2 linked regions of the Homo sapiens genome follow. The protein of the gene in region 1 interacts with the protein of each later gene in a pairwise test. Each region holds a gene or a part of one and is shown on either strand. Other genes may lie near its edges. The genes, in order: SCARA3 and SYNGR2.

What was found.
Region 2: the proteins of SCARA3 (region 1) and SYNGR2 interact in binary tests that used the Homo sapiens proteins (3 or more experiments, as listed by UniProt).

The regions. Positions count from the first base shown.
Region 1 is NC_000008.11:27,648,320-27,660,662, forward strand, and holds part of SCARA3 (scavenger receptor class A member 3), read left to right. Parts: intron 1-1,382; coding exon 1,383-1,481; intron 1,482-3,188; coding exon 3,189-3,308; intron 3,309-8,462; coding exon 8,463-8,561; intron 8,562-10,176; coding exon 10,177-11,220; intron 11,221-12,343. UniProt on the Homo sapiens protein: Seems to protect cells by scavenging oxidative molecules or harmful products of oxidation.
Region 2 is NC_000017.11:78,158,965-78,171,580, forward strand, and holds the start of SYNGR2 (synaptogyrin-2), read left to right. Parts: upstream 1-9,616; 5' UTR 9,617-9,652; coding exon 9,653-9,751; intron 9,752-11,852; coding exon 11,853-12,090; intron 12,091-12,545; coding exon 12,546-12,616. Other genes in the region: C17orf99 (protein IL-40), read left to right, coding at 1,991-2,290, 5,131-5,702. UniProt on the Homo sapiens protein: May play a role in regulated exocytosis. In neuronal cells, modulates the localization of synaptophysin/SYP into synaptic-like microvesicles and may therefore play a role in the formation and/or the maturation of this vesicles.

The sequences.
Region 1 (12,343 bases):
AAGGAGGCAGGGCGCAGTGGCTCACGCCTGTAATCCCAGCACTTTGGGAGGCCAAGGTGGGTGGATCACGGTCAGGAGATGGAGACCATCCTGGCTAACATGGTGAAACCTCGTTTCTACTAAAAATACAAAAAATTAGCCGGGCGTGGTGGCGGGCACCTGTAGTCCCAGCTACTCGGGAGGCTGAGGCAGGAGAATGGCGTGAACCCAGGTGGCAGAGCTTGCAGTGAGCCGAGATAGCACCACTGCAATCCAGCCTGGGCGACACAGTGAGACTTTGTCTCAAAAGAAAAAAAAAAGGAAAAAAGGAAAACTTGAAGCTTCTACTTCTAGCATTACCAGCTTAAAATATTCTCGGGCTATAAAATGTAGACATTAAATAAACTACAGACATACTGCTAAGTGCATAGCTAAAGGTGAAAGAAAGCAGGGAATCCTTAAGGACCCAACAAAACGGCAAAGAAAGAGATAAAGAGAGAGGGAGAGGGAGGAGAGAGAAAGAGAGAAAGGAGGGAGGGAGGGAGAGAGAAGGAAAGGAGGGAGGAAAGTAGGGAAGGAAGGAAAGGAAGGAAGGAATGAAGGAAAGGAAAGGAAAGGAGAAAGGGAAGGAAAGAGGTAAGGAAAGGAGGGAGGAAAGTAGGGAAGGAAGGATGGAAGGAAGGAGAAAGGGAAGAAAAGGCCAGGTCTTACTTACAGGGAGTGGGAGGTGAAGGGTGTCTGGGGAACTAGAGGAATCTTCTGAGTGAGGGATACATCATCTAGGTTTTAGTTAGGGACCATATTGTCCCAGAGAATAAGCACCGAATCAAACTCTGAAAGGAGACCTGCTCCGCCCAAGGCCCTTTGACACCCTGATGGGTCCTAGGTGAGATTGTGTGAAGCAGGGATCTGCGCCCATCCTGTCATCTCCTCCTCCCTCTGGCCTCCTCCTGGCTATGCTGGAGGCAGAGTCTTGGTGGGGACTATGCTGTGGCCAGATTCAGCCTTGTCCCTGGAGAAGAGGAATTCTGCTTCGGTGACCAAGTATTGGGGAATAGAAGGACGCTAAGCCAGAGCAAGCAGCCAGCTCTTATTTCTCCTTACTCCACCTTCATGGGTTTCAGCAAGCTCCAGAGAGAGCAGGCACTGAGGTGGCCCATGTGTCTTTCCCAGCGTGTGGAAAATGGGGAGCTCTCCTCACCCAGAGGGGTGGGACATCCCAGCTCCTCAGCCACTTGATTCTTATGTCCGCTCCCTTTTTGCAGCTTACATCAGGCCACCTGGAGCTCAGTGAGCTGGCTCAGGGGTAGAGGTGGGCATGGGATATGGGGACAGGTAAATAAAAGGGGCTGCTGGAGAGGCCTGGGATGGCTTTGGGTCTGACGGCACTGGCTTCATTATAGTGAGGTCGGCCGGCGGCGATGGAGATGCCTTGTGCGTTACAGAAGAGGACCTGGCGGGTGACGACGAGGACATGCCGACCTTCCCATGCACCCAGAAGGGTAAGGACTCTGGGGCTGCCCCTGATCTCCGCTCTGGGCTGAGAGATCCCTGTCTCCATCCCCAGGCCAGTGAGAGATTTGTCTCTTTAGGTGGTTTCAAAAGCCTGGGTGTCCTTTCCCCACTGCTTCCTGGATGGTGAAAGGGCAGAGTTCACGGCCCTGGGCGTGCAGTACCAGTGAAGTCAAAGGAGTTTAATGTTTTTTTTTCTTAAAGACATGGTTTTGCTGTGTCGTCCAGGCTAGTATGAGTGGTGCAACCACAGATCACTGCAGCCTCAAATTCCTGGGCTCGAGTGATCCTTCCACCTCAGCTTCCCAAGTAGCTGTGACTGTTGGCACGCACCACCATGCCTGGATAATTTTTTTTATTTTTTGTAGATACAAGAGTCTTGCTATGTTGCCCAGGCTGGTCTCAAACTCCTGGCCTCAAGTGATCTGCCCGCCTCAGCCTCCCAAATTGCTGGGGTTACAGGTGTGAGCCACTGTGCTTGGCCTGAAATCAAAGCTTGACACAAGTGCCACCTGTCTCCTGGGGTCCTCCCGAGACCCATCAGGGACTTCTGCCATCTCCCAGAGCTACATACCCTGTCCCTGGGGCCTGTCTTCTAGCTGGCCTGGAACTGTCCCCTTCATTGTGTCCCATGCCACCTGAACTGCTGTTTGGAATGGGGTCTCAGTGACTTTGGTGTAGAGTAGAGCAGTTGTTCTCAACCTTGGCTCTTCATTGCAATCACCCATGGATGCATGAGACCAACCCTTGGAAATTCCTATTTGGCCTGGAGTGTGATCTGGGCATCAGGATTTTTAAACGTCCTAGTAGTCAGAATGTGTGGCTAAAGGTGAGTTCACCTTAGGAATTCGCAGCTGGGCCATCACTGCATTCCCACTGGGTGTTGGCCACCTGTCTGTGTATTCAGGACCATCTGGTTCCCTCTTTCCTCCATGCCAACAATTCAACTGGTGGACCATGACTATTTGTTTGGTTTCCAGGAGAACTTCTGGTTCCCTGAAAAGTTTGGGGACTGGTAACCAACATTCTGGTTTGCCAGGGACTGAGGGGATTCCCAGGGTGTGGGGCTTTTCATTTTCTTTTTTCTTTTTTAAAATAGAGATGGGATCTTGCTATGTTGCCTTGGCTGGCCTCAAACTCCTGGGCTCAAGTGATCCCCCTGCCTCAGCCTCCTCAAGTGCTGGGATTACAGGCATGAGCTACTGTACCCGGCAGGCTTTCAGTTTTAAAACCCAGACAATCTTAGCAAACCAGGATGATTGGCACCATGCTGAGGAGCTCCTGTGATGGGAGACTTTCAGTGCTAAAACCCAGAAGATCCTGGGCAAGCCCAGACAAGTTGGTCACTCAGTGGGGCCTCAGGCTGGCTGCTCATCCTGTGGGTCCTCAGTAGGACCAATGGAGAGGGAAGAGGTGTTTCCCCTCCCCATGGGCCGAATGAAGACACCATGGAGAGAGGATGATGGTAGTGCTGGGGGCTGTTCTTTGAAGTCCTGACTCGGTCTCCTGCATTCCAGAAAGCACCAGCACCTAGAGAAAGGAGGTAGGACAGGTAGAGAATGAGGGTCGAGAACAGCTCCCCTTCTGAGCCTGGTTTGAATGTGATGAGACAGACCAGAGCAGGAACATGGAACTGACCCTTCAGCTCCAACCTGGGCCCCTGGCCTAAGCCATTGTCCTCCTTGTGTCCCCCACAGGCCGGCCAGGGCCCCGCTGCAGCCGCTGCCAGAAGAACCTATCTTTGCACACATCGGTGCGGATTCTTTACCTCTTCCTGGCCCTGCTCCTGGTGGCCGTGGCTGTGTTGGCCTCTCTGGGTGAGTCCGGGGCTTTCCCACCCCGGGCTGCAGGGGGGTGTCTGATCAGGGATCCAGCACCAAAAGTTCCCCTGCAAAGACAAACACTTGACATCTGTATCCCAGGGCCCAGAGCCAGCATCTTCCTGGCTAGGGGATCTCTATGCCTAATGCAAACTGCAGACACTGGCAACTGACAAGATCTGTGGCCTTAAGGAAGGCACCTGCCTCTGGGGACCCCTTCTTTCCCATTGGTGTAATGAGATGATACGACCAGGTCAGTGCTTCTCAGTTTCAGCTCCATGTTACAGCCATCTTGGAGCTTTAAAGAATGTCGATGTCTAGGCCCCACCCCGATCGTGGAATTAATTCGGTATCTTTCAACTCTCCTGATGATTCTGTTGTTCACCCAGGGTTGAGATCACTGGATTGAGTGACTTCTAAGCCCCCTTTTATGGTCTGTGTGTTTCTAAAAGTGAGGCTGGATGCCTACCTGCAGCAATTTCACCTCCAGTATTTGTTAAAATGCAAATTCCTGGGTCTCCCTCAGCCAGACCTGCTGAGACCAAGGAATCTGGGGGGTCCTGCAGGTGAGACCCAGGGATCTGAGGTTTGGTTCTTCTCATACACATTAGGGTTTGTAGTAGTTGACCTAGGTCACAGCACACAGCCAGAGGCAAGTCACTTCTGCCTTCCAGATGCTGACAGATTGTGGTAAACTTGTTACAACAAATTTGATGTTTGTAATCCCATTCCACTAAGAGTGCTAAGAGTGCAATCCCATTCCACTCTTAGCTTCAAACTTTGAAAATCCGGGCTCTGGTAGGCTTGTTTGTTCCAATCTACTGGATTTTAGAAACAAGGCCAGGAGTAGGGAGAGGCAGTCGAGGCTCCGAGGGGGGCCCCCTGCTCTCATGCAGACCCTGAGCCTGAGCACATCCCTAAGGAGAGGCCCCTCGTCCTGGCCCTGGCTGGAGATATTCGGTAACCAGCCTTCTTAGCTTGAAGGCAAGAGGCCAGCATACTAATGATTTGAATAGACACAAGTCGTCTTCCAGTAATCCGAAGGCATTAATTAATCCAACAAAAGCCGGGAGCCTGCTCTGTGCCAGGCACTGGGAACACTGAGTTGTGTCAATTACATTTCACCATCAAGGGGCATGGTTCTTCCCTCTTGTCAGGGGATACTGGAATCCCTTGGAAAGCATTTAAAAATACTAGTGCCAGAGTACCCCCTCCACTCACTCCAGATGAATTAAATCATCATCTCTGGGTAGGACCCAGGCCTTAGTCATTTGTAAATCCCTTCAGGGGATTCCAGTCCGCAGCTAGATTTAAGAACCAAGGATTTCAGAACTTCCCAAGCCCATCACCACCTGTGTCTGCTAAATCAATTCACAAGGTTTGGCATTTCAGAAAGTGGCAAAAATCCCAGGCCAGAGGAGGAAAGGAGCCACGGTCTGCCTATCAGAGGCCACAAACTTGCTGTCAGAGAACTTGTCAAGATTTCTGGTCACCCCTTTTAGGGCCTCTGCTCACAGCACTCAAGGCACCTGGGGCCATTATCAAAGCTCCAAGAGCCACAGGATCAGGCCCAGAGAAGAGCGCAGGCACCGAAGAGTTTCAGAGAGGATGACAGAATGTGAGACGCTGTCATGTGCATAACATCCATGAGTCAGCCTGGCAGGCTGGAGCGGGAGGCTGGCCCCATTCCTCACGGGAGGGTACAGACCTGGGAAGGGGACAGGATTTGCACCAAGATCCAGAGTGAATGGACAGAGGATCAGAACAACCTGGGTGAGGAGTGTGTGTTTGTGAACCACGGGAGACCTTTGGGTTTCCTTTTTTGTTTTTGCCTCCAGCTTGGGTATCCCAAGTCCCTAGAACAGTGTTGGCACCATCTTGGCCTAAATGGCAGGTGCCCAATAATATTTGTTGAAAGAATGATTATAGATTTGTAAAGCGTGTGTGTGTGTGTGTGTGTGTGTGTGTGTATGGTGTATGTGTGAGTCTGTGGATAGACTGGTCAATGCTTTACAACCAGAACTGTGACCAAAGTCCAGAGGGTTGGGAAAATCAGTCAGCAGACATTACAAACCAACTCTATTCATTTTAATCAAGTTTTTTTTTCTAAATCAAGAGCATACTGGGGACCAAGAACTATATTCTATACTGGGCAGTATACTGCTTAGTAAAACACAGACCCTGCCTTCATGGAGCTTATAATCTAGAGCTGATTATGGCCATTTTTTTCTGTAAAAGGCTACATAGTAAATATTTTAGGCTTTTCAGGTTACATACAATCTTTGTCACAACCAAACTCGTCACAGAGCAAAAGCAGCCACAAGCAGTCTGTAAATGAATGGGGGTGGCAACTCCTGTAAATCAGGCATTAGGCTGGATTTCACCTGCAGGCCATAATTTGCAACACCCCTGGTCTAGAGCAGTGATCCCTAAACTTTTTTGACCGTGCATCCCATCAGTAAAAAATTCATTTAAAATGCATTCAAAAATTTACATGGATTGATGAATGGGTGAAAGAGATGGATGAATATAAAATAAATACAGAAAAATGCTACTTGTAGAATCTAGGCAATAGGCATATAGGTCTTCACTGTACAAGTCCTTCTATTCTTTTGTTTGAAAAATTTTTAAATTAAATGTTAGAAAAGAAAAAATTGTTAGCGTCACAGCCCCAAAATATACCTATTTATTTATAAGTGATGTATATGTACTATTTGCCATATTGTCTACATAAAACATAATTTTATAAGGATGAAGAAAAATCATGTCTAAAAAGTGAGGAAAAATGGCTTAAAAAGCAAATATATAATTATTAAGCCTGAGATGCACAATGAAGAAATAAGCAAGGCCAGGTGCAGTGGCTCATGTCTGTAACCCCAACACCTTGGGAGGCCAAGGTGGAAGGATCACTTGAGCTCAGGAGTTTGAGGCCAGCCTGGGAAACATAGTGAGACCCCAACTCATTTCAATTAAAAAAAAAATTGAAAATTAACTGGGCATGGTGGCACATGCCAGTAGTCCTGGCGGCACATGCCAGTAGTCCTGGCTACTTACGAGGCTGAAGTGGGATGATCACTTGAGCCCAGAAGATTGAGGCTGCAGTGAACCATGATCACACTGCTGCACTCCAGCCTGGGTGACAGAGCAAGACTGTCTCACAAAAAAAAAAAAAGAAAAAGAAAAAAAGAAAAAAGAAATGAACAGGTGAATGAATTATATGGAGTGGAGTGAGCCTCGGCTGTTGGCTTGGAAGTAGAATTAATGAAGCATAGGAATAGGAATCAAAGTCACTCAGTCTCTTTGTGTCTTTGTTCATCTATGCATGAAATCTTAATTGTAGGGAGGCTCAAATGGAATCATAACTATTGTAAACTGTACAGTGCTTGTCTCATGTAACAGCATGTGCTTATTCCCAAACTCTCTCAACATGTTGCTGTTACTAATTAAGTAAATCTACTGACAGCTCTGAGATGTACAATATTAACTGGAGCCTGGAGATTCCAAATAATTTGAAAGCATAGAATTTTGGTGCTGATGAGAGCCTTAGAGTCATCGAGCTCCACATTTTCATTTTACATATGATTGAACTGAGCTCAAGAAAGGGTAACTGACTTGCCCAAAGTCACCCAACAAATGTGATGTAAACTAGGACTAGAAGCTGTGTTACTCAGTGCTCTTGGTGGTGCTAATTCTTTCCCCTTGTACTTGACCTTAAGAGGATCTGTGGGAAGCATCTTGCTGAACCTCAGAACAACCCATGCCCTCCCTCACTACCAGGCCCATTCAGGCACCCGCTGGAAAAAGCCAGGCGTCCTGCTGCTGCCAAGACGTGCTCTAACCACTGGCCAACATGGCCCCCTTAGTAGAGTGCAAGGCTGCCCGTGGGGTATAAAGTGGTGTAATCTTTTCTGGGCAGCAGTTTGGCAGCTTGTATCAAGGACTTCAAAAATGTTAATACCCTAGGTCCCATAATTCTATTTTAAGCAATTTATCCCAAGAGAATTATCATATACACATAACCATCATATATAAGGATTATTTCTAGAATTAAGCATTACTTATATTTATATATCAAGTTTTATTTATGAGCTCAGAAGAAGAGGTACTTTAAGTGTCCTCAACAGTAGGAGATTCTTACATAATTGCTGTATTATTTATATAGAGTGCCATGCAGATACCAAAAGTAGTGATTTTAAAGTGATTTAACCCTGGATGGAAAAATGTCCGTGACATGATACTGATAAAGCAGCATCAAAGAAAACAGATGAGATGTTCAGAACATCCCAGTTTTGCTTTTGTTGCCTAAGAAAGTACAGTAGTCCCCGTTTATCCGCAGTTTCAGTTACCCTAGGTCAATCGGCAACATCATGGCTTGATGATCCCCCTTCTGACATATGGTCAAGGTCAGTAGTAGCCCAATACTAAGTCACAATGCCTATGTCATTCACCCCACTGCATCTCGTCACGTAGGCATGGTGTCATCTCATGTCAGCACAAGAAGAAGGATGAGTATGGTACAATAAGATATTCTCAGATACAAAGAGACCATATTTACATAACTTTTATTATAGCATACTGTTCTAATAGTTCTATTTTATTATTAGCTGTTGTTAGTCTCTTACTAGGCCTAATTTATACATTAAACTTTATCTTAAGTACGTATGTATAGGAAAACACATAGCATATTTAGGGTTCCATACACTGAGGTTTCAGGCATCCACTGGGGGTCTTGGAATGTATCCCCTGCAGGTAAGAGGGGAACACTGTATATATCTATGTAGCTGAAGAATGGTTATCAATGTAGACAAGACTAGAAGAAATCCATGAAGACACTGATGGCAGCAACCTTTGGGTGGTAGGAATAAGAATAATTTTTTTTTAATTTTTTTTCTGAATTTTCCCTGTTCCATTCTGTGATCAGGTCCTATTTCTAACATGTGGGGTGTGGGGTGAGTTATTCTGTTTCTAAAGGGCCTTGTGGCAAACTCTGGCCATAAGAAGTATCTTCCCTAACCGCCATGAAGAAGCCTGAGAGAAGAAGGGTGAAAGGTTTTGGTTGCAGAGGAGCTGATAAAGATGCCTTCTCAAGGAATGACTGCTGTTTCTCTGAGCTTAGACCCTGCCCCAGCTTCTCATCTGTTTTCCCTACAGTTTTCAGAAAAGTGGACTCTCTCTCCGAAGACATCTCCTTGACCCAGTCTATTTATGACAAGAAGCTTGTGTTAATGCAGAAAAATCTCCAGGGCCTGGGTAAGTAGATGGGCTGATGACTGTGATGCAGTGATCTTCAGGGTGGGGCAGGGGTGCCCTCCCCACGCTACAGTGCCCCAGCACCAAGCAACCTTCACCAGCCTTCTAGGCACAGAGGCTATCCCCAGCTCCCTGCTCCCTCCCCAGCCGGATCTCCATCCATTAGAGGAGGGCTGCTACCCTGGGATACTCCCAGGACTGGAGCAGGGGATTCTGGGTGGACCACAGATCTAGCCAGAGTCTACAGGCAGAGAAGGAAGCCAAAGATAGTCCATTCCCAAAATAGCCTCATGCATCTGAAATGATGAGAGTTTCAAGACCTTGCAAAACCTCCTGCCAGGTCAACCCTTTCCTCATCATTGCCTTAAGCTGTGCCACGATTCTTTTCTTTTTTCTTTTTTTTTAATATGTGCCATCTATTTATCTATTTCCATAATTTTAACTTTTGTTGTTATAGATTAAGGGACACATGTGCAGGTTTGTTACTTGGTTATATTGCGTGACACTGAGGTTTGGGGGGGTAGAAATGATCCTGTCACCCAGGTAGTGAGCCCAGGTACCCAATAGGTGGTTTTTCAGCCCATAACCCCCTCCCTCCTCTCCCATCTAGTATGCACTGAAGTCTATTGTTGCCATCTTTATGTCTACATGTATTCAACCTTTTTTTTTTTTTTTTTTGAGACGGAGTCTCACTCTGTCACCCAGGCTGGAGTGCAGTGGTGTGATCTCGGCTCACTGCAAGCTCCACCTCCTGGGTTCGTGCCATTCTCCTGCCTCAGCCTCCCAAGTATCTGGGACTACAGGCGGCAGCCAGCATGCCCGGCTAATTTTTTGTATTTTTAGTAGAGATGGGGTTTCACTGTGTTAGCCAGGATGGTCTCGATCTCCTGACCTCGTGATCCGCCCGCCTCTGCCTCCCAAAGTGCTGGGATTACAGGCGTGAGCCACTGCACCCAGCATCTACATGTATTCAGTCTTGCTCCCACTTATAAGTGAGAGCATGTGGTCTTTGGTTTTCTGTTCTTCTGTTAATTTGCTTAGGTCATGCCACAATTCTTGATGTTCTTTATCCCCTGCTTTAACCTGGAACAATCTAAGAGAGAATGAGACAGAAGGAGCAATGATAGAAGGGTTTAGAGTGGTCTTATCTGACGCAAATAGAAGGTTCTGGTCTGGCACCAATATACGTGGCTATTTACCAAGCCACTTCTCTGCACCTCGTTCCTCTTGATTGTATTGAATGTATTATTTTGAGAGGATTGAATAAGATAACAGATATAAAAATACTGGGAGAAATTTTTAAATAAAGTTTAAATGGGAAGTTCCTGGCCACCTAAGAAAAATTATGAAGATACATTCTTGAGAATTTGGTGGTGAGAAGGAGGAAACATCCTAAATGCTACATTTCAGATCAGAGTCAAGAAAGTCGGTAAAAATGAGATTCCATAGAGGTGGCAAGGCTTTTTCAAGAAGGAATTCATAACAGGACTTCTGGAAGGAAGTTGGTTTGGGAAGCTACTAACCAATTTCTTATGCTCTGAAATATTTAATTTAAAGAGGAAGCGTCGTACCCTGGCCCTTCAGCAACTCAAACTGTTATCCCTTTCCCCTAAAGATCCGAAAGCCCTGAACAACTGCTCTTTCTGCCATGAAGCTGGGCAGCTGGGGCCAGAGATCCGAAAACTGCAGGAGGAGCTGGAGGGAATTCAGAAGCTGCTTCTGGCCCAGGAGGTGCAGCTGGACCAGACCTTACAGGCCCAGGAGGTGCTCTCCACCACCAGCAGACAAATCTCCCAGGAGATGGGCAGTTGCTCCTTCTCCATCCACCAGGTTAACCAGTCTCTGGGGCTCTTCCTGGCCCAGGTGAGAGGCTGGCAGGCCACCACAGCTGGCCTGGACCTCTCTCTGAAGGACCTCACCCAGGAGTGCTACGATGTCAAGGCTGCAGTGCACCAGATCAACTTCACCGTGGGGCAGACTTCCGAGTGGATCCACGGGATCCAGCGGAAGACAGACGAGGAGACCCTGACCCTCCAGAAGATTGTCACCGACTGGCAGAACTACACACGGCTCTTCAGCGGCCTGCGCACCACCTCCACCAAGACTGGAGAGGCGGTCAAGAACATCCAGGCCACCCTGGGGGCCTCCTCACAGCGCATCAGCCAGAACTCAGAGAGCATGCACGACCTGGTACTCCAGGTCATGGGCTTGCAGCTGCAGCTGGATAACATCTCGTCCTTCCTGGATGACCACGAAGAGAACATGCATGATCTTCAGTACCATACCCACTACGCCCAGAACCGCACTGTGGAGAGGTTTGAGTCTCTGGAAGGACGCATGGCTTCTCACGAGATTGAAATTGGCACCATCTTCACCAACATCAATGCCACCGACAACCACGTGCACAGCATGCTCAAGTACCTGGATGACGTGCGGCTCTCCTGCACGCTGGGCTTCCACACCCATGCCGAGGAGCTCTACTACCTGAACAAGTCTGTCTCCATCATGCTGGGCACCACAGACCTGCTCCGGGAGCGCTTCAGCCTGCTCAGTGCCCGGCTGGACCTCAACGTCCGGAACCTCTCCATGATCGTGGAGGAGATGAAGGCAGTGGACACACAGCATGGAGAAATCCTTCGCAATGTCACCATCCTACGAGGTAAGAGCTGGGTCCAGGTAGGGCTGCTACAAAGCTTCCACTGAGGCTTGGTGATCTTGCTGGACACAGAAGTACCTGGTTTTAGGCAAAGTACTAGTGGGCTAACACAATCCTATAGCAAATGCCTACAGCAGTCGGCAGCTTTAAGAAATGTCCTTGCATTAGCCAGGCATGGTGGTGTGTACCTATACTCCTAGCTGCTTGGGAAGCTGAGGCAGAAGGATCACTTGAGCCCAGGAGTTCGAGGCTACAGTGAGCTATGATTGCACCACTGCACTGCAGCCTGGGAGACAGAGTAAGTCCTTATCTAAAAAAAAAAAAAAAAAAAAAAAAAAAAAGAGAGAGAGAGAGAAAAGAAAAAAGGAAAAGAACATCCTTGCAAACCTCTTTTGTAAAGGTATTATGGCTTCTAACTTTGCCTATTATACAAATCTGGATTTTTGTATTTAGATTTATTTAACCAAGTCCTAATAGAGAAATAAGCAGATCTTGTCTTTTGAAAACTGTCTCCTCTTTTTTACTCCCTTCCCACCCCCTCATTAATGCTCCCAACCACCCAACCCTCTGCCCCTGGAGGCTGTCACTCTGAAAAACTCTTCTCCTCTCATCCCCCTCATGTCTTCCTTATTTATCAGGGTTCTCCAGAGAAACAGAATCAATAGTGTATGAGAGAGAGAGAGAGACAGAGAGATCCACAGAAACAGAATCAATAGTGTATGACAGAGAGAGATCCACAGAAATAGAATCAATAGTGTATATATATATAGAGAGATAGACCCAGAGAAACAGAATCAATAGTGTATAGAGATGATAGATAGATAGGTAGATAGATCCAGAGAAACAGAATAAATAGTGTATAGATAGATGGATATATAGATGATTGATTGATTGATTGATCCAGAGAAACAGAATCAATAGTGTATAGAGATAGATGATAGGGATGATAGAAATGGATAGATAGATAGATAGGATAGAGATAAAGAGATAGAGATGAGATAGATAGATAGATAGATAGATAGATAATAGATAGATAGATGATAGATAGATCCAGAGAAGCAATCAATAGCATAGAGATAGATGATAGATAGATAGATAGATAGATAGATAGATAGATAGATCTAGA
Region 2 (12,616 bases), on another chromosome or scaffold:
TCCCCAAACCCCTTCAGATGGGGAGGGAAGAGGAGGAGAGGGGAGGGGACCTGCCCCCTCCTCAGGCATCTGGGAGAGCCCTGCCCCCACGGGCTTTACCCTTCCCTGCAGGCTCTCTCCCCGACACATTTGTTAAAATCAAACCTGAATAAAACTACAAGTTTAATATGATTTAAAAAAAAAAGGAAAAGAAAAAACCCCGTCTCTACTAAAAATACAAAAATTAGCTGGGCATGGTGGTGCATGCCTGGAGTCCCCACTACATGGTAGGCTGAGACAGGAGAATCGCTTGAACCCAGGAGGTGGAGGTTGCAGTGAGCTGAGATCGTGCTACTGCACTCCATTCTGGACGACAGAGCAAGACTCTGTCTTTAAATAAATAAATAAAAGTGGGCCGGGCGCAGTGGCTCACATCTGTAATCCCAGCACTTTGGGAGGCTGAGGTGGCCAGACCACCTGAGGTCTCGAGTTCAAGACCAGTCTGGCCAACATGATGAAACCCCATGTCTACTAAAAATACAAAAATTAGCCAGGCGTAGTGGTGGGTGCCTGTAATCCCAGCTACTCTGGAGGCTGAGGCACGAGAATCTCTTGAACACGGGAGGCGACAGTGCAAGACTCTGTCTCAAAAAAAAAAAAAAGTGATAATTCAGCAGCATTTAGTGCATCCATAGTGTTGCTCAACCACCACCGCTATCTAGTTCCGAGAGATTTTCATCACCCCAAAAGGAAACCCCGTATCTATTAGGCAGTTACTCCCCATTTCCCCCTCCCCTGGGCCCCAGTAACCACCAATCTGCTTTCTGTCTCTGTGGGTTCTCCTGTTCTGAACTTTGCACACACATGGAATCATGCAACCGTTGCCCTTTGCGTCTGCCTTTTTGTTTAGTGGAATGTTGTTACGGCTCATCCCTGTTGCAGCCTGCATCTGTGCTCATTTCTTTCTAAGGCTGAGTAATATTCCTTATATGGATCAACCACATTCTATTTACCCATTCGTCCATTGATAGATATTTGGGCCGTTTCCACCATTTGGCTGTGGTGAATCACGCTGCCATGAGCGTGTGTGTACAGGTATCTGTTTGAGTCCCTGTTTTCTATTATTTGGTGTATGTCTAGGCCTGGAATTGTTGAGTCATATGGTAAGTCTGTTTAACTTTTTGAGGAACCACTAAATCAGTATTTTCTTTCTTTCTTTTTTCTTTACTCTGAGGTCTACTGGTTTCACTTATTTATTTGTAATTTTTAGGTTCAGGGGTACATGTGCAGGTTTGTTATAGAAGTAAATTGCAGCCGGGCGCGGTGGCTCACGCCTGTAATCCCAGCACTTTGGGAGGCCAAGGCGGGTGGATCACGAGGTCAGGAGTTTGAGACCAGCCTGACCAACATGGTGAAACCCTGTCTCTACTAAAAATACAAAAATTAGCCAGGCGTGGTGGCACGCGCCTGCAGTCCCAGCTATTCGGGAGGCTGAAGCAGGAGAATCACTTGAACTCAGGAGGCGAAGGTTGTGGTGAGCAGAGATCGCGCCACTGCACTCCAGCCTGGGTGACAGAGCAAGACTCCATCTAAAAAAAAAAAAAAGAGAGAGAGAGAGAGAACATGCTAAACCCAGCATCCTTTTTCTTTTTTTCCTGAGTCTCCCTCTGTCGCCCAGGCTGGAGTGCAGTGGTGTGATCTCGGCTCACTGCCACCTGCCACCTCCGCCTTCCTGGTTCAAGAGATTCTCCTGCCTTAGCTTCCCGAGTAGCAGGGATTACAGGTGGGCACCACCACGCCCGGCTAATTTTTGTATTTTAGTAGAGACAGACTTTCACCATGTTGGCTACACTGGTTTTGAACTCCTGACCTCAAGTGATCCGTCCACCTGGACCTCCCAAACACTGGGATTACAGGTGTTTGCCACCGAGCCTGGCCAAACCAGTACCTTCTTAAGGTGCTTGATCAATGTCGGTTTCTTTCTTCCTCCTTGGACCTTTTCATCTCCCAGAAATTACCCCTGTGGTCTCCATTGCCTACAAAGTCCTGGAAGTTTTCCCCAAAGGCCGCTGGGTGCTCATAACCTGCTGTGCACCCCAGCCACCACCGCCCATCACCTATTCCCTCTGTGGAACCAAGAACATCAAGGTGGCCAAGAAGGTGGTGAAGACCCACGAGCCGGCCTCCTTCAACCTCAACGTCACACTCAAGTCCAGTCCAGACCTGCTCACCTACTTCTGCTGGGCGTCCTCCACCTCAGGTGCCCATGTGGACAGTGCCAGGCTACAGATGCACTGGGAGCTGTGGTCCAGTGAGTGCGGTGGGGGGCACAGGGCTGAGGAGGCAGGTGGGGTGCAGATCAATGGGGAGCTCTGGGAGTGGGGATTGTGAACCTTGCTGGGGTTAGAGAGAGCCAGGGTGTGAGGGTGTGGACAAGGACAGGCTGCCACCTCCAAGGCCATTCTCAGTCCCTTGGGGCCTTTAATCAGGACTTGCTGTCCCTGGCTGGGGCCCTGAGGGCACAGTCTCCTGGCAGGGGCCTGAGGGCACAGAGGGAAAGAGCCCGATGGTGGCAGAAATGACTGGGCCCCAGTTGTCAGCTCGGACCTCAAGGTGATAAACTAGGCACGTTTGTCTGGGCGCAAATCCCAGCACTGTGGGAGGCCGAGACAGGCTGATCGCTTGAGCCCAGGAGTTCGATACCAGCCTGGGCAACATGGCGAAACCCTGTTCCTACTAAAATTACAAAGATTAGCTGGGCGTGGCGGGGTGCACCTGTAGTTCCAGCTACTCAGGAGGCTGAGGCAGGAGAATCGCTTGAACCCGGGAGGCAGAGGTTGCAGTGAGCCAAGATTGCGCCACTGTACTCCAGCCTGGGTAACAGAGCGTCTCCAAAAAAAAAAAAAAGAAAAAGAAACGAAAAAAAAGTTAGGCACGTTTTGTGCATTACTTCGCTTGATCTTCACAGCAGTGTCAGGGGTGGGGTCTGAGCCTCTGGGTCTATAGCTATGTAAGCTAAAACTCTGGGGAGTTAAGAAAGTTGCCCCAGGGGCTGGGTGTGGTGGCTCACGCCTATAAGCCCAGCATTTTGGGAGGCCCAGGCGGGAGGATCACTTGAGCTCAGGAGTTTGAGACCAGTCTGGCCAACGTAGTGAAACCCCATCTCTACTAAAAATACAAAAATTAGCTGGGTGTGGTGGTGGGCACCTATAATCCCAGCTACTGGGGAGGCTGAGGCAAGAGAGTCACTTGAACCCAGGAGATGAAGGTTGCAGTGAGCCAAGGTCGTGCTGCTGCATGCCAGCCTGGGTGACAGCGTAAGACTATCTCAAAAAAAAAAAAAAAAAAAAGTCGCCCCAGGCCACATGGCTGGCAAGTGGCCAAGGCTGCTTTCAAACCCCACTCTGTCCAGCTCCAAACCCTGCCTTCTTCCTGTTTCCATCCTGATAGTAACTCAGGTAACCTTCTTGGTGGGAGCTATGGGGTATGGGAACCAGGAAGTGTTGCCCGACTTAGGGTGGGACAAGGAATCGCCCCATTCATCCTTTGGCCCGCACCCTAAGAACACCAGGAAAAGACAGCCTAGGGGAGATGAGCCCAGGATCTGCAGCCCAACGGGTCCAAGGTTCAAATCCCTACACTTACTGGCTGGGGTCTTGAACAACTCATTGGACCGCTGAGCTTCAACTGCTTTATCTGCAAAAGGAAAATAATAACAGAGGCCAGTGAGGTGGCTCACACCTGTATTCCCAGCATTTTGGGAGGCCAAGGTGGGAGAATCCTTTGAAGCCAAGAGTTTGAGACCAGCCTGGACCACAGAGTGATACTCTGTGTCTGCAAAAAAATTATTTTCTTTTTTTGAGATGGAGTCTTGCTCTGTCGCCCAGGCTGAACTGCAGTGGCACGATCTCGGCTCACCGCAACCTCCGCCTCCCAGATTCAAGCGATTCTCCTGCCTCAGCCTCCCGAGTAGCTGGGACTACAGGCCCTTGCCCCCATGCCGGCTAATTTTTGTATTTTTAGTAGACACGGGGTTTCACCATGTTGGCCAGGCTGGTCTCAAACTCCTGACCTCAAGTGATCCACCTACCTAGGCCTCCTAAAGTGCTGGGATTATAGGCGTGAGCCACTGCACCCAGCCAATAGCAATTTTTTAAAAAATTAATCAGGTATGGTGGTGCATGCCTGTCGTCCCAGCTACTTGGGTGGCTGAGGTGGGAGGATCATTTGAGCCCAGGAGTTGGAGGCTGCAGTGAGCGGTGATCACACCATTGCACTCTAGCCTGGGCAACAGAGACCCTGTCTCTAAAATAATAATAGGTCCTACTTCAGGGGACCTATTAAATGAAAGCCTTTTAGTAGGTGGCAAGTGTGGTGGTGATTACTCATCAGTAAGAATGTCTAGAGCATTAGGCTCAAGGCCTGGGGGATTCTAGAATCTTCTACATGACAGTTTTTGTCCTGAAGTAGCTTGCCTTTCAGTAAAAAAGACGAGACTGAATGATAGAGTTGCCAGATAAATTTTACATAGGACATACGTATAGTAAAAGATTATTCATTGTTTATCTGAAATGAAAATTTAACTGTATTTTTATTTGCTAAGTCTGGCAATCTGAAATACGCTACACAAGAATAAAACCAGGCCGGGCACGGTGGCTCACGCCTAAAATCCCAGCACTTTGGGAGGCTGAGGCAGAAGATTGCTTGAGCCCAGGAGTTTGAGACCAGCCTGGCCAACATGGTGAAACCCCATCTCTGCAAAAAATACAAAAATTAGCTGGATGTGGTGGTGCACACCTGTAGTCCTAGCTACTCGGGAGGCTGAGATGGGAGAATTGCTCGAGCTGGGGAGGCGGAGGTTGCAGTGAGCCTAGATCGCGCCATTGCACTCCAGCCTGGGCGACAGAGCAAGACCCTGTCTCAAAATAAAGTAAGAATAAGATAAAAACCAAATGTGAAATTGTGTGGTACACACGGCAGGTAGGGCAGCAGCCCAGACACAAGGTGGAGGGCAAACTCTAGAAGGCGGCCTGGAGGAGGCGGCAGCCACAGCTAAGCTCATTAGGCATTTTGTAATGAGGAGAACTTACTGAGGAGGAGGGGTTTAAAACCGCTCAGCCATGCCTGTGCTACCTTCTCCCACCCTGCCAGAGCCAGTGTCTGAGCTGCGGGCCAACTTCACTCTGCAGGACAGAGGGGCAGGCCCCAGGGTGGAGATGATCTGCCAGGCGTCCTCGGGCAGCCCACCTATCACCAACAGCCTGATCGGGAAGGATGGGCAGGTCCACCTGCAGCAGAGACCATGCCACAGGCAGCCTGCCAACTTCTCCTTCCTGCCGAGCCAGACATCGGACTGGTTCTGGTGCCAGGCTGCAAACAACGCCAATGTCCAGCACAGCGCCCTCACAGTGGTGCCCCCAGGTGAGAGGGCCCTTGGATTTCCAGAGGGGCAGCTGGCGCTTCTGTGCCGGGAGGGTGCTAGTGTCCAAGACACAGGTCGATGGGAAGTGGGACAGCTCTACCCGGCCACTGCTGAGAGCAGAGAGGGCACAGGAGGCAACCATGCCCACCCTGGCCCCTGCCTAAAGGAAGCCCAACCCAGCTGCCTCCGCCCCCTCCCAGGAGGGTTGCCCAGGGCACCCACCATCGTGCTGGTTGGCAGCCTTGCCTCCACTGCGGCCATCACCTCCAGGATGCTGGGCTGGACCACGTGGGCCAGGTAGGAAATGGGTGCTCGATGCAGGGAGGAGGGAGAGCTGCTGATGGCCTGAGAGGTCCAACCGGGCCCTGGCTGCAGAGCTCAGGTGGTGGGGCTTGCAGGGCAGGGCTGTGGCCAGGGCAAAGAGCGGCCATCACCGCTTACGCATGACTCGAAGGTGTTTATGAGGACCTACTGTGTGCCATGTGCCTACTGAGGCTTACACATTCAAGGCGTTATCGGACCCTGACCAGTGCTCCCAGGTGCCCTGTAACACAGTCTGCTGGCCTCTGGGAGGGCAGTCTCCTAAGTTCTTTATGGGGTCTGAGCAGGGATTGCAGGGATGATGCCTCCAGGAGACCAAGGTGGACCAGGAGCTCCTGCCTTCTGTGAGAACCACCTTGGGCAGTCTTTCCGAGGTGGTGGCAAGAGCCTGGGGCCCAGCCTCCCAGGGTCCCCTCTCCAAGGCCATGGCTTTACTAACATGTAAAGTGACCAAGGCCTTTGTAGTGTCTGAGTGCAGGCACCACAGGCCTGTGTGCTCTGCCTGTCTGGCTTTGGTGGTGGCCAGCCCTGCCTCTGTGAACTCATCTCTCTTTGTTTGGGAGACACTGCCGTGTCCTGGTTCTCATCCTCTGCCCGTGGCCCAGGCCCTTACGTGGCTCTACCAGGAGTCTGTCCTTGGCACTTTCCCATCTCACTTCTACCAAGTCTGTTCTTTCCAGAAGCCAGACTCGTGGGTGAGCCATGTCACCTCGCCGAGCCTCAGTTTTTCCTTCTGTAAAATGGGGTACAGCCTTCATTTAGTGGGGTGAGTAAGCCTCATGTCTCTTCTGCTGGGGCACTGATGTGCTTGGCACCATAAAACTCCCAGAGGCAGGCCGGGCACAGTGGCTCATGCCTGGAATCTCAGCACTTTGGGAGGCTGAGGCAGGCGAATCACCTGAGGTCAGGAGTTCGAGACCAGCCTGGCCAACATGAAGAAACCCCGTCTCTACTAAAAATACAAAATTAGCCGGGCGTGGTGGTGCGCACCTGTAGTCCCAGCTACTCGGGAGACTGAGGCAGGAGAATCACTTGAACCCAGGAGGTGGAGGTTGCAGTGAGCCGAGATCGTGCCATTGCACTCCAGCCTGGACAAAAAGAGCAAAACTCCGTCTCAAAACAAACGAACACTCTCAGACGCCTCGGGAGGGGATGGCTGGGAGGTGAGCCTGCCTGACTTGAGTCTCCACTGCTTTGTCAAGGTGGTGACCAGAAGATGGAGGACTGGCAGGGTCCCCTGGAGAGCCCCATCCTTGCCTTGCCGCTCTACAGGAGCACCCGCCGTCTGAGTGAAGAGGAGTTTGGGGGGTTCAGGATAGGGAATGGGGAGGTCAGAGGACGCAAAGCAGCAGCCATGTAGAATGAACCGTCCAGAGAGCCAAGCACGGCAGAGGACTGCAGGCCATCAGCGTGCACTGTTCGTATTTGGAGTTCATGCAAAATGAGTGTGTTTTAGCTGCTCTTGCCACAAAAAAAAAAAAAAAAAAAAAAGGGTAACTATGAGAGATGGTGGATATGTTAACTTGCTTCGCTATAGGAACCTTTGTGCTATCTATATTATCTATATGAATCCCATCATATCAGGTTGTCTACCTTAAATATACACAAAAACATTTATTTAAAAAAAAGAAAAAAGCCTGCCAGCTGGGATTCTTGGAGTGCTGGTGGCCTTCAGCAAACACAGACACTGTTGGTGTGAGGGCTTCAGGAGGGTCACAGAAATAAGGGGGTCTGTGTGGCCCTGTCCTCGCCTCTCAGGTGCTGTCACATCTCTCTGGGTGTAGGGAGAGGGAGGGGGGCACACTGCGAAAAGGCCCAGCCCCTCCCCCCCACCTGCTCCCCTCTTCCCTGGAGAGGCACCCCACCTCCTGGTGGCCCAGTCCTATGGTTCAACTCTCACGTGGTCCAGCTCACCTGGGTTGACTGTGAGCCCCACCTGGCACACCTGCTGTTGTTAATCTGCACCTGCAACTAGCAAAGGGGGGTCTGGAATTCTTCCGGGTTCAGTCAGCCTGTGATCCCACACCTCTGTCTGTACAACCTCCGCTCCCCACTCCAACACACACAGAGCCTGCCCCAGCCTACCCTGCACCAGACCCTCTGTACCGGTTTTTCTTGGGATGGAGGTAGAGAGGGACGGAGGCGAGAGGGGGCTGAACTGGAACTGGATTAAACTTTGCCATCTGCCTGTCGCCCTGAAAACTTCATTTCTGTTTGCATGCCATATATATATTTTTTTATATGTGGTCTTTTCTTTTTTTTTTTTTTTGAGATGGAGTCTCGCTCTGTCGCAATGGTGCAATCTCGGCTCACTGCAACCTCCGCCTCCCGGGTTCAAGCGATTCTCCTGCCTCAGCCTGCCAAGTAGCTGGGACTACAGGCACGCGCCACCATGCCCAGCTAATTTTTGTATTTTTAGTGGAGACGGGGTTTCACCATGTTGGCCAGGGTGTTCTCGATCTCCTGACCTCGTGATCCGCCTGCTTCAGCCTCCCAAAGTGCTGGAATTACAGGCGTGAGCCACCACGCCCGGCCGATATGTGGTCTTACTCTGTCACCCAGGCTGGGGTGCAAAGGCGTGATCTTGGTTCACTGCAAACTCCGCCTCCTGGGCTCAGACAATTCTCCCACCTCAGCCTCTGGAATAGCTGGGACTGCTAGTAGCTGCCACCACGCCTCGCTAACTTTCGTTTTTGGTTTTGTTTGTTTGTTTGTTTGTTTGTTTGTTTTGTTTGTTTTGAGATGGACTCTTGCTCTGTTGCCCAGGCTGGGGTGTAGTGGCTCGATCTCAGCACACGGCCACCTCTGCCTACCGGTTTCAAGCAATTATCCTGCCTCAGCCTCCCAAGTAGCTGGGATTACAGGCGCTTACCACAACGCCCAGCTAATTTTTTTGTTGTTGTTGTATTTTTAGTAGAGACGGGGTTTCACCATGTTGGCCAGGCTGGTCTCAAACTCCTGACCTCAGGTGATCCAACCGCCTCGGCCTCCCAAAGTGCTGGGATTACAGGTGTGAGCCACTGCGCCCGGCCTTGCACACCATCTTTTTTTTTTTTTTTTTTTTTTTTTTTGACACAGAGTTTTGCTCTTGTTGCCCAGGCTGGAGTGCAATGGCACAATCTCGGCTCACCGCAACCTCCACCTCCCAGGTTCAAGCGATTCTCCTGCCTCAGCCTCCCGAGTAGCTGGGATTACAGGCATGCACCACCACACCAGGCTAATTTTTGTATTTTTAGTAGAGACGGGGTTTCTCCATGTTGGTCAGGCTGGTCTCGAACTCCTGACCTCAGGTGATCCAACCGCCTCGGCCTCCCAAAGTGCTGGGATTACAGGTGTGAGCCACCGCTCCCGGCCTTGCACACCATCTTAAGTGTGACGCCACACTGCCCTTCACAGCCTTGGGGCTCTGCCCAGACCAGGAGGAATGGGGAGGGGGTCTTTGACCCTACCCCAGGCTTAGCCCCAGAGAGGAGGAAAGAGTGGCAGGCCAGGCAGGGAGGGGCTCCAGGGTGTGGCCTGGGTTTTTCAGTGGGATGGGGGAGGGGTTGCTTATGAGCCTGGGTGGGTTCTTGGTAGGTGGTGGGCTTCCTAGAGGAGGCGGTGGGAGGGCAGGGGCAAAGAGGGTGAGCGGTCCTCAGTTCGTCCGTCTTCCCGGGGGACTCTCTGACCCTTTCTGGTCCGTGCTGCGGCCGGCGTGGCCCGGAGACTAGCCCCTCAACCCCGAGGTGGGGTGGACCCGGGTGCTCCGCGGCCACAGCCCCTCCCCGCCTCTAGAAGCGCAGTCCCGCGGCTCGCCCGCCGCTCGCGAGGGCCGCACTTTGCCCTCGGTCCCTAGCGGCGCCTGGCCACGCCCCCGGCGGGTGGAGTCGGGCGGGGCGCCGGGCAGGTTCCTCTGCGTTCCGCGGCGGCGGCAGCGGCGGCGACGGCGACATGGAGAGCGGGGCCTACGGCGCGGCCAAGGCGGGCGGCTCCTTCGACCTGCGGCGCTTCCTGACGCAGCCGCAGGTGGTGGCGCGCGCCGTGTGCTTGGTGAGCCCGGGGAGGGCGGGCCGAGGGCACCCTGGGGACCCCCTCTCCGTCGCCAGGCCCGGCGGGGCCCCTAGCCCACGAGCGCGACAGGTGGCGGCGGCCGCGTCCGGGGCCTGGCGGCGAGCGGGGCCGGCGTCCAGCGTCCCGGGCCCCGCCTTCCCGCCCTCCACAGTCTGTCCCGCTGTCCCCTCCCGGTCCCGGGTCCCGCCACCCACCCCACCCCCAGCCTCGCGCCCCGACGCGGGGTGTCCGGATCTCCGCAGGGAGCGGGCCCCTGCCTCGCTGGCAGTGGGAGGAGTTTGGGGGCGGCTCCCGGACAGGTGGCCCGCACGCCGCGACTCCCAGATTGGGGAGTTCACCGGGACGGGGTTTTCCGAAGCCACGTGGGGTAAGGGAGGGGGCGGGGGGCGACCCAACGCCCGGAAACAGGGTGTCCTTCCCACTCGGGGCAGGCCACGGGTCCGCCTTCCCACCCGAAGTTGAGGGACCCCAAGATGTACCCCCTCCCTGTAAGGTGGGCAATACCTCCAAAACCAGGTTTTGTGTGTGTGTGTGTGTGGCGGGGAGGGGGCCTGTTCTTGGACAGCCAGCCCTGAAAGCTGGAGGGGGTGGCATGAGGGGGCAGGCAGAGGTGGGCCTGCTGTGCCCAGACCATGCCTGGGCCTGGAGCTTCTGAGGTCCTCCAGGGCGCCCACACCAGCTCCCAGCCAGGCTGTGGGATCTGATCGCCTCTGTCCTGGGCTGTGTCCAAGAATCAGGTGCCCAGTGGGTCGGGATGGCAGTGCCAGGAGTCCTGGATGGGCACCCTGCTCCCATCATCCCGGAGATCCGGCTTCATCTCCATCTGGGGGCGGGGCCTGTGACTGCCAGCTCCAGAGCCCTATGGAGAGCTCCCTGGGACAACAGGGCAGGACTGGCAGGGGAGAGTCCTGGGGCCATCCCAGAGGGATCCTGATGCTCACAGACCTGTCCCACACCTGCTGAGGTGGAGCAGGCGTGGGTGGTGGCCTTCAAGTTTAGGGAGGTGGTATGGGGCTCTTCCCAAGGGGCTGGAGCTCCCCTACATCCACCCTGGGTCCTCCAGGTGTCTGAGTTCAGAGCTGTATCCACAGGCCTGAGTTAGTCCCCTTGTAGTGCCCTGTGCATGCAGGGCCCTCTGTGGGGTGGGAGACAGACTGGGAGGGACCAGGATGCCACAGAGGCTGCAAGTCCTTGTGTGGAGACAGCTGGCCAGGCTGAACCAGGGAGGGTTCCAGGGGTTCCAGGAGGTGAAGACACAGGGGCGCCAGCATGGCCTTCCCAAGAGGGCCTGTCCACCTTCACCAAGGTGTTCAGGCAGAGGCTGGGTGCTGTAGAAGTGACTTGGGCTGAAGGTGACGGGGGATGGGTAGTCTTTGTGACTTGGCCTGTCTTGGTTAAACCTCTTTCAAGGTGAGGTTGGGCTGGGGATGGAAGGACTGCCCTTCATCCATCAGGTACCTAAGCAGAATGATTCCTGCAGCAGGCCGATGGGGCAGGAGCAGCCCCTGCCTAGGAGGTCCCTGCCCATTCCCCACCCCTCCCCGGTCCAGGATTCCCAGGGGCAGGCCCCCTGGTGCCTGCAGATTCTCATCCTGGGGTGCATCAGGAAGCACTTTGCTCATCAGCTCACCTCCACAAGTTTGGAGGGGCTAAGATGTCAGCCTCCAAAAGGGGACAGCAGGCTGGGCGAGGTGGCTCATGCCTGTAATCCCAGCACTTTGGGAGGCCGAGGAGGGTGGATCACCTGAGGTCAGGAGTTCCAGACCAGCCTGGCCAACATGGTGAAACCCTATCTCTACTAAAAATACGGGTGTGGTGGAGGGCACCTGTAATCCCAGCTACTAGGGAGGCTGAGGCAGAATTGCTTGAACCCAGGAGGCAGAGGATGCAGTGAGCCGAGATCGCACTATTGCACTCCAGCCTGGGCAACAAGAGCAAGACTCCATCTCAAACAACAACAAAAACCCAAAAGGGGACAGCAGTAGTGGGAGAGGCCAGCATCTGTACACCCCATCAGGGTCCCCGCTGTGTGTGCCCCTCAGGCGGCCACCAGCCCTACCAGGTCCTCCCCTCCCGGCAGGTCTTCGCCTTGATCGTGTTCTCCTGCATCTATGGTGAGGGCTACAGCAATGCCCACGAGTCTAAGCAGATGTACTGCGTGTTCAACCGCAACGAGGATGCCTGCCGCTATGGCAGTGCCATCGGGGTGCTGGCCTTCCTGGCCTCGGCCTTCTTCTTGGTGGTCGACGCGTATTTCCCCCAGATCAGCAACGCCACTGACCGCAAGTACCTGGTCATTGGTGACCTGCTCTTCTCAGGTATCTGCCTGTGGCACCTCCATTTGATCTTGGGGGAGGCATTAACTCTAGGGTTCCGCAGCTGGGAGGGTCTCGGCCTCTCTGGGAGGGGCAGGGAGCAGCTCACTCCTCCAGGGCATTTTTAGGAAAGGGTTTTCAGCTAGTGTTTTTCCGTGCTTGAATGGCACCAGCCCTGCCTGGGGTAGCTAGAAGCTGAGTGGACCTGCAGCACACCCGAGCAGATGGGCTTTGCCTCTGCCCCTTTTGTCCCCTAGGCTGTCTGCTGTGGCCCACCCTGCCAAGGCCCGAGTGTGGGGGACTTTGGAGGTGGCTCCCGGCCCGGCTTCCAAGTCCTCCCCTCCATAGTGTGGAGGCTCCCCCGGGAGGTCCCTGCCCTACCTGCCCGCGTCCCCTCCCAGAGTCCTGGAAAGCCCCTCCCTTTCCATGGAACTGACGCTTCACCCGTCCTCCCCCAGCTCTCTGGACCTTCCTGTGGTTTGTTGGTTTCTGCTTCCTCACCAACCAGTGGGCAGTCACCAACCCGAAG